2 separate regions of the Homo sapiens genome follow, and region 2 is linked to region 1. Evidence: fine-mapped expression QTL. Tissue or cell type: tibial artery. Region 1 holds a variant in brackets; the other region holds the start of a gene. All regions are shown on one strand. Distances are between the middles of the regions.

Region 1 (5,187 bases):
GCTGTCTGGACCAGATGGGGAAACAAGCCCAGCAGGGCAAGATGATTGGTCTAAGGTCGCAGCCAGGTGACAGCTGGGTCACTTCTCCTCCCACTGTCACTGCTGCCTCCATCTGACTTGAAACTCAGAGCTAAAGCGAGGCCCAGGGGCTGCCAGGTCCGATTGCCAGTGGGCCTGGTACCTCTGCCCACATCAGCCTGGCCTTGGGCCCTCTGGGACAGGGTCACCCACATCTTGAACATGGCCCGGGAGATTGACAACTTCTACCCTGAGCGCTTCACCTACCACAATGTGCGCCTCTGGGATGAGGAGTCGGCCCAGCTGCTGCCGCACTGGAAGGAGACGCACCGCTTCATTGAGGCTGCAAGGTCGGTCTCCTGGCTTTGCTGCCTGCCCCACTGTGGCTTCAAGCGGCCTCCGGTGCCCTCCTCCTGCCCACTCTGCCATCAGCTGTGCCATTCCTTCCAGCCCTCAGTGTCCTTCCCTCCTTCTCTACTCTCAGTTGGTTGTGAGCCCTTCACCTGCCCTCCCCTGCAGGAGGCGGGATCCTTCATGGTGAGGGGAGGGTGCTGAACCTGGCCTGCTTCCACAGAGCACAGGGCACCCACGTGCTGGTCCACTGCAAGATGGGCGTCAGCCGCTCAGCGGCCACAGTGCTGGCCTATGCCATGAAGCAGTACGAATGCAGCCTGGAGCAGGCCCTGCGCCACGTGCAGGAGCTCCGGCCCATCGCCCGCCCCAACCCTGGCTTCCTGCGCCAGCTGCAGATCTACCAGGGCATCCTGACGGCCAGGTATGGGATGGGAGCGAGTGGCAGGGGGTGAGTAGGTGGGTTTGCTGGGGGTGGCTGCTGGGTCACTCAGAGCTGACTCAGGGCCACCTCCTCACAGCCGCCAGAGCCATGTCTGGGAGCAGAAAGTGGGTGGGGTCTCCCCAGAGGAGCACCCAGCCCCTGAAGTCTCTACACCATTCCCACCTCTTCCGCCAGAACCTGAGGGTGGTGGGGAGGAGAAGGTTGTAGGCATGGAAGAGAGCCAGGCAGCCCCGAAAGAAGAGCCTGGGCCACGGCCACGTATAAACCTCCGAGGGGTCATGAGGTCCATCAGTCTTCTGGAGCCCTCCTTGGAGCTGGAGAGCACCTCAGAGACCAGTGACATGCCAGAGGTGAGGCTGGGGCTGGGGGAGCTCAGCTTGCAGGGGTGGGGGCCATAAGGAGGGAGATGGGGAAAGACCAGGATGGGCGTTTGACTGTAGACCTGAGCAGGGCGTACCCGGGCTAAGTCTGGCCCGCCCATGCAGGGTGTCCTGGGAGGACCCAGGGGGCCTGGTCCCAGCCTCCTTCACAGTCAGCCCAGTATCTCTTAGCACCCGGCGTCTCCAGCCTGTCCCATGAATACCCCTGAAGATGGGGACCAGCCACGTCCTGGGCCCCTGAGAGCAGCTGAGATCCAGTGAGGGCAGGCGGAGGCACTGTAGGCACAGGCTGGAGAGGGGTCACGGGGGCAGGGCAGGAAGCAGTGCCTGTTTCCAAGGCTCCTGGGTGAGCCAGCCCCAGCCTCGATCGCGGGCAGGTTCCAGCCTGACCACAGGACTAGCTGTCTCAGGGGCAGGGCTGCCTCCCCAGGCCATGAGCTCCACAGGCCCCTGCAGGCCCTGGGGGCGATCTCTAACCCCATGGTGGGGAGGCTAAATTAATCTCTGAAGCCCCTCCCTGGTCTGAGGAGCAGCACCTCAAAGGATGGGGTGGGGAGGAGTCTGCGCACTCACGCCGCCCAAGTCCTGCCTAAGTCAGCACCCTTGATGCTCAGTGCTGCGGGCACAAGCCTAAGCCTGGGAGCCAGGCCCTGTCTGGGACTCAAGGCCAAATGGCTGACTTGGAGGAAGGAGCATCCACTGAGGGCAGGAACATTTGGGAGAGGCTTCCTGGAGGAGGTGTGGGTGGGGAAGGATAGGGAGGCGTGGTGGGTTGATGGGCGGGTGTGGGCGTTGCTAAAGGCAAGAGGTCCTCACCCAGCACCGGACGCACGCATCCACCCAGCCCAGCTCAGGGGCTGGTGCCGGCACGGGTTTCACCTGCCGGCTGCCTACGCAAAGGCAGAGAAAGCATAGGAGGGGAGGAGGGCAGGGAGGCCTGGGTCTCCAGGGAGCTGAGGAGGGCTTCTGGGGGCCAGAAGGAAGCTACAAGCAGGTAGGGTTCAAGGAGCGGGGCAGCAGGGCTGGGGTGTTGTCCTCCCTCCCGAGGAAGCGTGGCTGTGGACAGCTTGGCTTTTGGCGTGCGTGCCACAAACATTCCGGCCCTCGCCTCCTCCTGGCTCTGTGCTTGGCACCCCTGCCCCAGATCTTCCCGGCTCTGTGCTTGGGCACCCCTGCCCCAGAAAGGCCTCCCATGGCTTCCGTATCCTCACACCTGTCCAGGTCTTCTCTTCCCACGAGTCTTCACATGAAGAGCCTCTGCAGCCCTTCCCACAGCTTGCAAGGACCAAGGGAGGCCAGCAGGTGGACAGGGGGCCTCAGCCTGCCCTGAAGTCCC[G/A]CCAGTCAGTGGTTACCCTCCAGGGCAGTGCCGTGGTGGCCAACCGGACCCAGGCCTTCCAGGAGCAGGAGCAGGGGCAGGGGCAGGGGCAGGGAGAGCCCTGCATTTCCTCTACGCCCAGGTTCCGGAAGGTGGTGAGACAGGCCAGCGTGCATGACAGTGGAGAGGAGGGCGAGGCCTGAGCCCTCACACATGCCCACGCTCCCCTGACACTGAAGAGGATCCACAACTCCTTGGAGAAACACCCTCACGTCTGTTGCCGCACACATTCCTCTCAGCTCCGCCCCATACCCGTCACTACAGCCTCACCTCCCACCCCTGTCACTACGGCCTCACCTCCCACCCCTGTCACTACAGCCTCACCTCCTACAGCCTTAAGTCCCAGGCCCATGTCTGCCTGTCCAAGGGCTCAAGACTTTCTAACTGGGATGTGGTAGAGGGACTGAAGGTACCTTTGGGGGCAACAGCACCCTAGTTTCATTCTCAACTCTAGCCCTGCACACTCACCTGTGGCACGGAATGAAAACAGAGCTTCCCGTGCAAAAAGGGTCACGCCTCCCACCCCCGCCCCCTCCCTGCACCTCCTGTCCTCTCCCAGTTCATTCCTGGAACCAGCCAGGCCAGGCAACCAGTGGCCCCCAAAGGCAGGCAGGATCCTCAGGCCCCAGCCGCGGGAGGCTGGAAGGGCTGGCAGATCGCTTCCCTCATCCACCTCCACCGGTCCAGGTCTTTGCTGCTGTCCCCAGACCTCCTGTGACACCACGCCAGATCACAGGGCACCAGGCCAGAGATAGTCTTCTTTTTGTCCTTTCTGGCCTCTGGCTAGTCAGTTTTTCATAGCCTTACAGTATCTGGCTTTGTACTGAGAAATAAAACACATTTTCATATTTGGTTATTTTCAATGTGACGATGAAGCCATCTGTGTTGCAGTCAGACCCTTCTCTGCTGGCTGGGGAAGGTGGCCGCCCCTTCCTCCCAGCAGTCTCCTCACAATTCCAAGGTGGCTCGTGACAGACCTATTTGGGGGAGTGCCGTGTTTGGGCGTGGCGTGGGAGGAAGATTGGGTAAGAGAAGAGAGGAAGTCAGTGCTATCTCCCCATCTCCTGGGGCAGGGCCTGGTAAATATGACCTGCTCACACCCACCCGCTCAGACAGGTCGGGCAAGGGAAGAAGTCGTCAGCGGGCAGCAGGCATGTGGCTCCACTGTGAGAGCTGGAAGGGGTTACTCATGAGGAAGTGCCTACCTGGACAGGACCAAGCCTGTTCCAAAAGCGAAGCCTCCTTGGGACACTCGGCGCCAGGTTCTCTGGCATGTTTTGGGTCCCAAGAATCACCTTCCTCCTGCTACAAAGCAAAGGGCCTGACTTTCCAAGCCAGGCTATTGCGGCCTGGGAAGAAGGACCCTTGGTGACACTTCCCCTCCTGCCCAGGGGTTCCTTCTGCTCAACTTTAGTGTCCAAGAAGAGTTAGTCATTCCATCTTTTTTTTTCTTTTTTTGAGACAGAGTCTGGTTCTGTTGCCCAGGCTGGAGTGCAGCGGCACGATCATGCCTCAGTGCAGCCTTGAATTCCCAGGCTGAAGAGACCCTCTCACTTCAGCCTCCTGAGTAGCTGGGACCACAGGCACACCTAGCTAAGTGGTTGTATCTTTGTCACTTCCTTTTTTTTTTTGAGACAGGGTCTTGCTCTGTCACCCAGAATAGAGTGCAGTGATATGATCTTGGCTTTCTACAGCCTCAACCTCCCGGGCTCAAGGGATCCTCCTGCCTCAGCCCCTGAGTAGTTGGGACTACCTACATGTGCCATCATGCCTAGCTAATTTTTATCTTTTATTTTTTGTGGAGACGGGGTTTTACCATGTTGCCCAGGCTGGTCTCGAACTCCTGGGCTCAAGCGATCTGCATATCTCGACCTCTCAAAGTGTTGGGATTACAGGCGTGAGCCACTGCGCCTGGCCCATCTTTGTCACTTCTATCCCTCTTCCCAAGATTATGTATGCTCTCTGCTCTATGATACATTACCCTGGTTTGGGGAAGGGGCCGGATTCAACTCCTTCCCTCAAAGCAGTCCTTAGAGATGGGAGCTGGCACCAAGCATTCTCAGTGACTGAGACTTCACGCCCAGTTTTAAGAATGAATCTCTCACCCAGGCCCTGGTGGGACTCCTAGCACTGCTCTAACCCTGAAGTGCGCAGTGGCAGGAGACTTGGATTTAGCCCCAGCTTCACCACTTATGAATTACTTTGCTTTGAGTCTCTGTTTCTTTCTGTAAAATAAAGGGATTAGACCTGGAAATCCCCAAGTACCCCTCTTCACTTTGATGCATTTTATATTATTTATTATTTATTTATTATTGAGTACAGTGGGGTGATCTCAGCTCACTGCAACCTCTGCCTCCCAGGCTCAAGACATCCTGCCTCAGCCTCCTGAGTAGCTGGGACTACAGGGCCACCACGCCTGGCTACACTTTGATACATTTTAACAATACATGCTATCTAGACATTGCTAGATTAGCCTCTACCTCCCTTCCAGAAGAGGAATCCTTGGCACCTATCTGGGTGGTATGCCTAAGGGTCACAAGATGTGGGGTACATGCAAGCTAGTTCTGATTCTTGATCCATCCTGCTGAGCAAACACTGGGGGCTACCCCCCACTCTGT
Region 2 (5,127 bases), 80 kb after region 1:
AAACAAAACAAAGCCAAGGCCGGGTGCAGTGGCTCACGCCTGTAATCCCAGCACTTTGGAAGGCTGAGACGGGCAGATCAGTTGAGGTCAGGAGTTTGAGACCAGCCTGGCCAACATGGCAAAACCCCATCTCTAATAAAAATACAAGAATTAGCCGGGCGTGGTGGCACACACCTGTATTCCCAGGTACTTGGGAGGCTGAGGCACAAGAATTGCTTGAACCCCAGAGGCGGAGGTTACAGTGAGCCGAGATCGCGCCACTGCCCTCCAGCCTGGGCGACAGAGCAAGACTCTGTCTTCAGAAAAAACAAAAAACCAAAAACCAGACATGGTTCCTGCCCTTGTGAGGCAGACACACTAGTGAGGAAGACAGATGTTAAACAGGCAAACACACGCATGAAATAACGTGATAAGTGCTGTGGCTAAAACAGGGTCTAGCTAGAGTGTAATGGGATGCTGGTGGGGGCAGAAAAGACGGCACTGAGCCTGGAGGAAGAGAAGCACCGCCACGTTAGAAGGGGTAAGACGATGCCAAGTGGTGGGGACAGCTAAGGATGTGCTAAAATCCCCAGGTGGAAAAGGAAGTGGAGGGTTCAGGGAGCCCACAGGGTTGGCATGGCTGTGCAGGTGATCAAGGGGAGGCCACAGGTGGAGAAATGGGTGGCGGCGGCTCCTGCAGGTTCAGGGCAGAGTTTGGATTTTATGGCAACCACTGGAGTGTGCAAACACGGGAGAGGCATGACACAATGGACATTTTAGGAGGGTCACTTTGCTGCTGTATGGAGAGTGGCCTGGAGGGGGCAGGGTGGAGGCAGGAGACCACTGAGAGCTGTTACAGTCATCCAGGTGAGAGGATGGTGGCCTAGGCCTTGGAGATGGAAGAGGAGGGCAAAGTTGCCACCTGTTAAGTTGCCACCTGTTTGGGAAGCAGAGTGGTCAGGACTTAACTGAAAGACTGTGTAGGGGTGAGGGCGAGCATGAGGTCAAGGATGACTCCAGCATACTGAGCCGGATGCCCAGGGACAGGGGCACTATTTCCATGGATCCCCCGGGAAGGGGAAGGGAAGAGTAACCTCCTCCCCCAAGGCTCCACGGAAGGGGCAAGGGCTGGTGACGAGGGGAGCAGAAGGGAAGGAGAGGGAGAAACAAAGTGTATGCATGTATCCAAATGTGTACAATTATTATGTATCAATTCAACTCATTTGAAAGTGGGTCTGGAGAGCAAGGGTGGCAGAGATAAATATATCTTCTGCACTACCACAGGACCTGAGGGGCAAGGCACGGGCAGGCCCTGCAGGAATACAGGGATGCCCTGGGCCCTTCCAAGAACTACCAGAGCCTTGGTACTGTGGGGAGAGTAGGGGTCAGTGAGTTTCTCCAGGACTCCCTTACATTTTACACACGTGGACCCGGAAGCCCAGGGGAAGGGGAATACCTTCCAGCTGATGCATCCCCACCTGGCACACAGTCTGGTTTTTTTTTTTGAGATGGAGTCTCACTCTGTTGCCAGGCTAGAGTGCAGTGGCGCGATCTCGGCTCACTGCAACCTCCGCCTCCGGGTTCAAGCAATTCTCCTGCCTCAGCCTCCAGAGTAGCTGGGACTACAGGCGCGTGACAACATGCCCGGCTACTTTTTGTACTTTTAGTAGAGACGGGGTTTCACCATGTTGGCCAGAATGGTCTGGATCTCTTGACCTCGTGATCCGCCCGCCTCGGCCTCCCAAAGTGGTAGGATTACAGGCGTAAGCCACCGTACCCGGCCAGTCTGGGGTCTTTTAAAAATACAGACCCGGGGCTGGGCGCGGTGGCCCATGCCTGTAATCCCAGCACTTTGGGAGACCGAGGCGGGCGGATCACTTGAGGTCAGGAGTTCGAGACCAGCCTGGCCAACATGGTGAAACCCGTCTCTACTAAAAGTACAAAAATTAGCCAGGCGTTGTGGCAGGCGCCTGTAATCCCAGCTACTTGGGAGGCTGAAGCAGGAGAATCGCTTGAACCTGGGAGGCGTGATCGTGCCACTGTACTCCAGCCTGGGCGACAGAGCGAGGCTCTATCTCAAAACAAACAAACAAAAAAACCCCACACACACACACAAAAAACAAAAAACAGGCCGGTGCAGTAGCTCACTCCACTTTGAGAGGCCAAGGCGGAAAGACAGCTTGAACCCCACAGTTGAGACCGGCCTGGGCAACATGGCAAGACTCCGTCTCTACCCAAAAAAAAAAAAAAAAAAAAAGGGCCGGGCGTGGTGGGTGTGCCTGTGGTCCCAGATACTCAGGAGACTGAGATGGGAGGATCCCTTGAGCCCAGGAGTTCCAGGCGGCAGTGAGCCGTGTTCGCGCCACTGCACTCCAGCCTGGGTGACAGAGCAAGAATATGTCTCAAAAAACAAACAAACAAAAAAAGGCACATAACCACGATCTACCCTCGTAAAACGTTTCCAGAGCGTCCCAGCGGTGCCCCTCATCATCTGGCGGCCCCTACGCCTCTCTGAGACTCACAGACCTACTCCCCTCTCCAGGGGGCGGAGCCCACACCGCTGAGCATTTACTCTTGTTCTTCCCTCTGCCAGGGGCACCGTTCTACCCCTTTCTGCCTGGAGAAACTGCCGTTTTTCCTTAAAGGATCCTCGAAGCCGGAAGGAGCAGCCACCTCCCACTCCCGGCTGCTGCAAGCAAGCTGCTTTGACTTCTTTCTAGAGTTGGGGATTGCTGCTGGAGTCCGAGTCTCAGGCCCAGAGTGGGTGCGATGGTCTTGCTTGCACCCTGTATCCCCCGGCAGACGCCCGGGAACTCTACTAAGTGGGTGACCCCAGAGAGCTCGCCCCCACACTCCGACTCCGAGTCCAGCACTCGGTCCACTGCACAGGGACCTCGCGCCCCACAGCTGCGTCCTCTCTGACCTTCGCAATCCGGTGCGCGGCCCGCGGAACGCCCCGATCTCCAGGGGCACGGAAGGCCGAGGCGTGCCGGGGGAGCCAGGAGCAGCTGGCTGGCGGGCGCCGCGGGCCTCCCCGGTCACGTGACACCCCGGACAACGTGCGCCGTCACGTGACGGCAGAGCCTGTGAGCGTTTTTCTCACGTGACGGAGGCGCCTGCACGTGGACCAATGGGGAGGCGGGGGCGGGGCCGGCAGGGGCGGTGCGCGGGAAGGGACCCCGGACCCGGAGGTCGCGGAGAGCTGGGCAGTGTTGGCCGCTGGCGGAGCGCTGGGGCAGCATGAAGTGCCTGGTCACGGGCGGCAACGTGAAGGGTGAGTGCAGGTCGGCCTGGCAGCGGCGGTGCAGCAGCCGCGGAGCCGCCAGCCTAACCCCCTTCCGCTCTTCTCCCCGCAGTGCTCGGCAAGGCCGTCCACTCCCTGTCCCGCATCGGGGACGAGCTCTACCTGGAACCCTTGGAGGACGGGGTGAGGGGCTAGGGTGTGGGGGGCGGGTGGGACTCCAGCCGGGAGCGGGTAACCCGGACTAGAGTCTCGCCCCCACTAGGCGGGATGACCGCTGGCAGATTTGTCGGCAAAGTTTCAGTTTCTTAGTCTGGCGGCTGTCATCTTCCCAGGCCGGTGTGTGAATTGAGGAAAGCTGTCCTGCGAGCTCCCAGGGGGTGACGTGCACTTAGAGAAACTCGGGGAAGGCCTGGGTGTGCGACCCCTCCTCTGCGGCAGCAGCGCCGGGGCCGACTCTGAAGGCTTCCATGGGGAAAGGAGGGTTTTTCAGCAGGTGGTGGCGGAGCGGGAGGACGATAGGGCAAGTGTGTGAGCAGAAGCAGCCAGAGGGCTGGGTCTGTGGCTGCCCCCTGACCACGTCCCTCTCCCTGCTCTTCGTGGCCCAGCTCTCCCTCCGGACGGTGAACTCCTCCCGCTCTGCCTATGCCTGCTTTCTCTTTGCCCCGCTCTTCTTCCAGCAATACCAGGCAGCCACCCCTGGTCAGGACCTGCTGCGCTGTAAGATCCTGATGAAGGTGAGGCCCTTCCCTCAGCAGTGGCACTACTCCACCCCAGGAATCTCCACCAGCTGTGCCTCTGCCCTGGGGTACTCAGTAGATGCTAAGTGGGGAGAGAGACACGTGCAAGCCCAATCCATGCAAAACACAGGGAGGGCCATGGTAAAAGCATCACAGCGGGGACCTGAGAGGGTGGTGACGCTCAAGTTCGTCAAGAAAGGTAAGCACGTCTTTTGGCCGGGCGCGGTGGCTCACGCCTGTAATCCCAGCACTTTGGGAGGCCGAGGCAGGCGGATCACGAGGTCAGGAGTTCGAGACCAGCCTGGCCAACATGGCGAAACCCCGTCTCTACTAAAAATACAAAAATTAGCTGGGCGTGGTGGCACGCGCCTGTAATCCCAGCTACTCGGGAGGCTGAGGCAGGAGAATTGCTTGAATCCGGGAGGTGGAGGTTGCAGTGAGCTGAGATCGCACCACTGCACTCCAGCCTGGGTGACAGAGCGAGACTCCATCTCAAAAAAAAAAAAAAAAAAGGTAAGCAGGTCTTTCAAGGCATTCCAAGCATAAGGAAGAGCATGAATGAGGCCTAGAAGGATGCCAGTGCCCGAGGTGACGTGGGAGCCCTTTTCCCAGAGTTACATGCTGGGCCCATGATGGGTGTGGGCCTGCATGGGACAGGAGAGCTTGTTGCAGAGATGTGATGCTAGGCTGAGGTGTCTTATCCCATGCAGTCTTTCCTGTCTGTCTTCCGCTCACTGGCGATGCTGGAGAAGACGGTGGAAAAATGCTGCATCTCCCTGAATGGCCGGAGCAGCCGCCTGGTGGTCCAGCTGCATTGCAAGTTCGGTGAGTGGGCAGCCGGCCAGCCAAGGGGTGCCTCAGCAGGGAGGTCGGCGAGGCCCACTGAGACCCTATCGCCCATCCAGGGGTGCGGAAGACTCACAACCTGTCCTTCCAGGACTGTGAGTCCCTGCAGGCCGTCTTCGACCCAGCCTCGTGCCCCCACATGCTCCGCGCCCCAGCACGGTGAGCACACCCCTGCCCTCAGCTCAGCCCCGGGTCTCTCTCTTCCTTCTTTGGGGCCCCAAGGGGTTGATTTTAGAAGGTACCTCTTTCATTTTCCCTACAGAGTTTCTGTGAACCTCAAAGACATCCCATGGCCCGCTATGTGCTCAGGTCCTTACCTGG

Evidence for each region. PIP is the estimated chance that this variant, and not a neighbour inherited with it, causes the effect.
Region 2: it holds the start of RAD9A, and the variant in region 1 is fine-mapped to the expression of RAD9A in tibial artery (GTEx, PIP 0.97).

Annotation. Positions count from the first base shown.
Region 1 is chr11:67,309,176-67,314,362 of GRCh38, forward strand. SSH3 (slingshot protein phosphatase 3) reads left to right here. Exons shown (of 14, transcript NM_017857.4): 11 at 222-368; 12 at 593-793; 13 at 891-1,164; 14 at 2,416-3,417. The coding sequence ends at 2,712. Among named protein-coding and RNA genes, the nearest start is that of SSH3, 8.2 kb to the left of the region's middle. The variant G/A (reference allele first, on the strand shown) is at 2,531.
Region 2 is chr11:67,388,826-67,393,952 of GRCh38, forward strand. RAD9A (RAD9 checkpoint clamp component A) reads left to right here and starts at 3,161. Exons shown (of 11, transcript NM_004584.3): 1 at 3,161-3,253; 2 at 3,336-3,406; 3 at 3,829-3,957; 4 at 4,671-4,785; 5 at 4,866-4,965. The coding sequence starts at 3,220. LOC100130987 (a long non-coding RNA gene) reads left to right here. Exons shown (of 4, transcript NR_024469.1): 4 at 2,573-2,862. RefSeq lists enhancers at 2,328-3,243, 3,278-3,782 and a silencer at 3,008-3,377.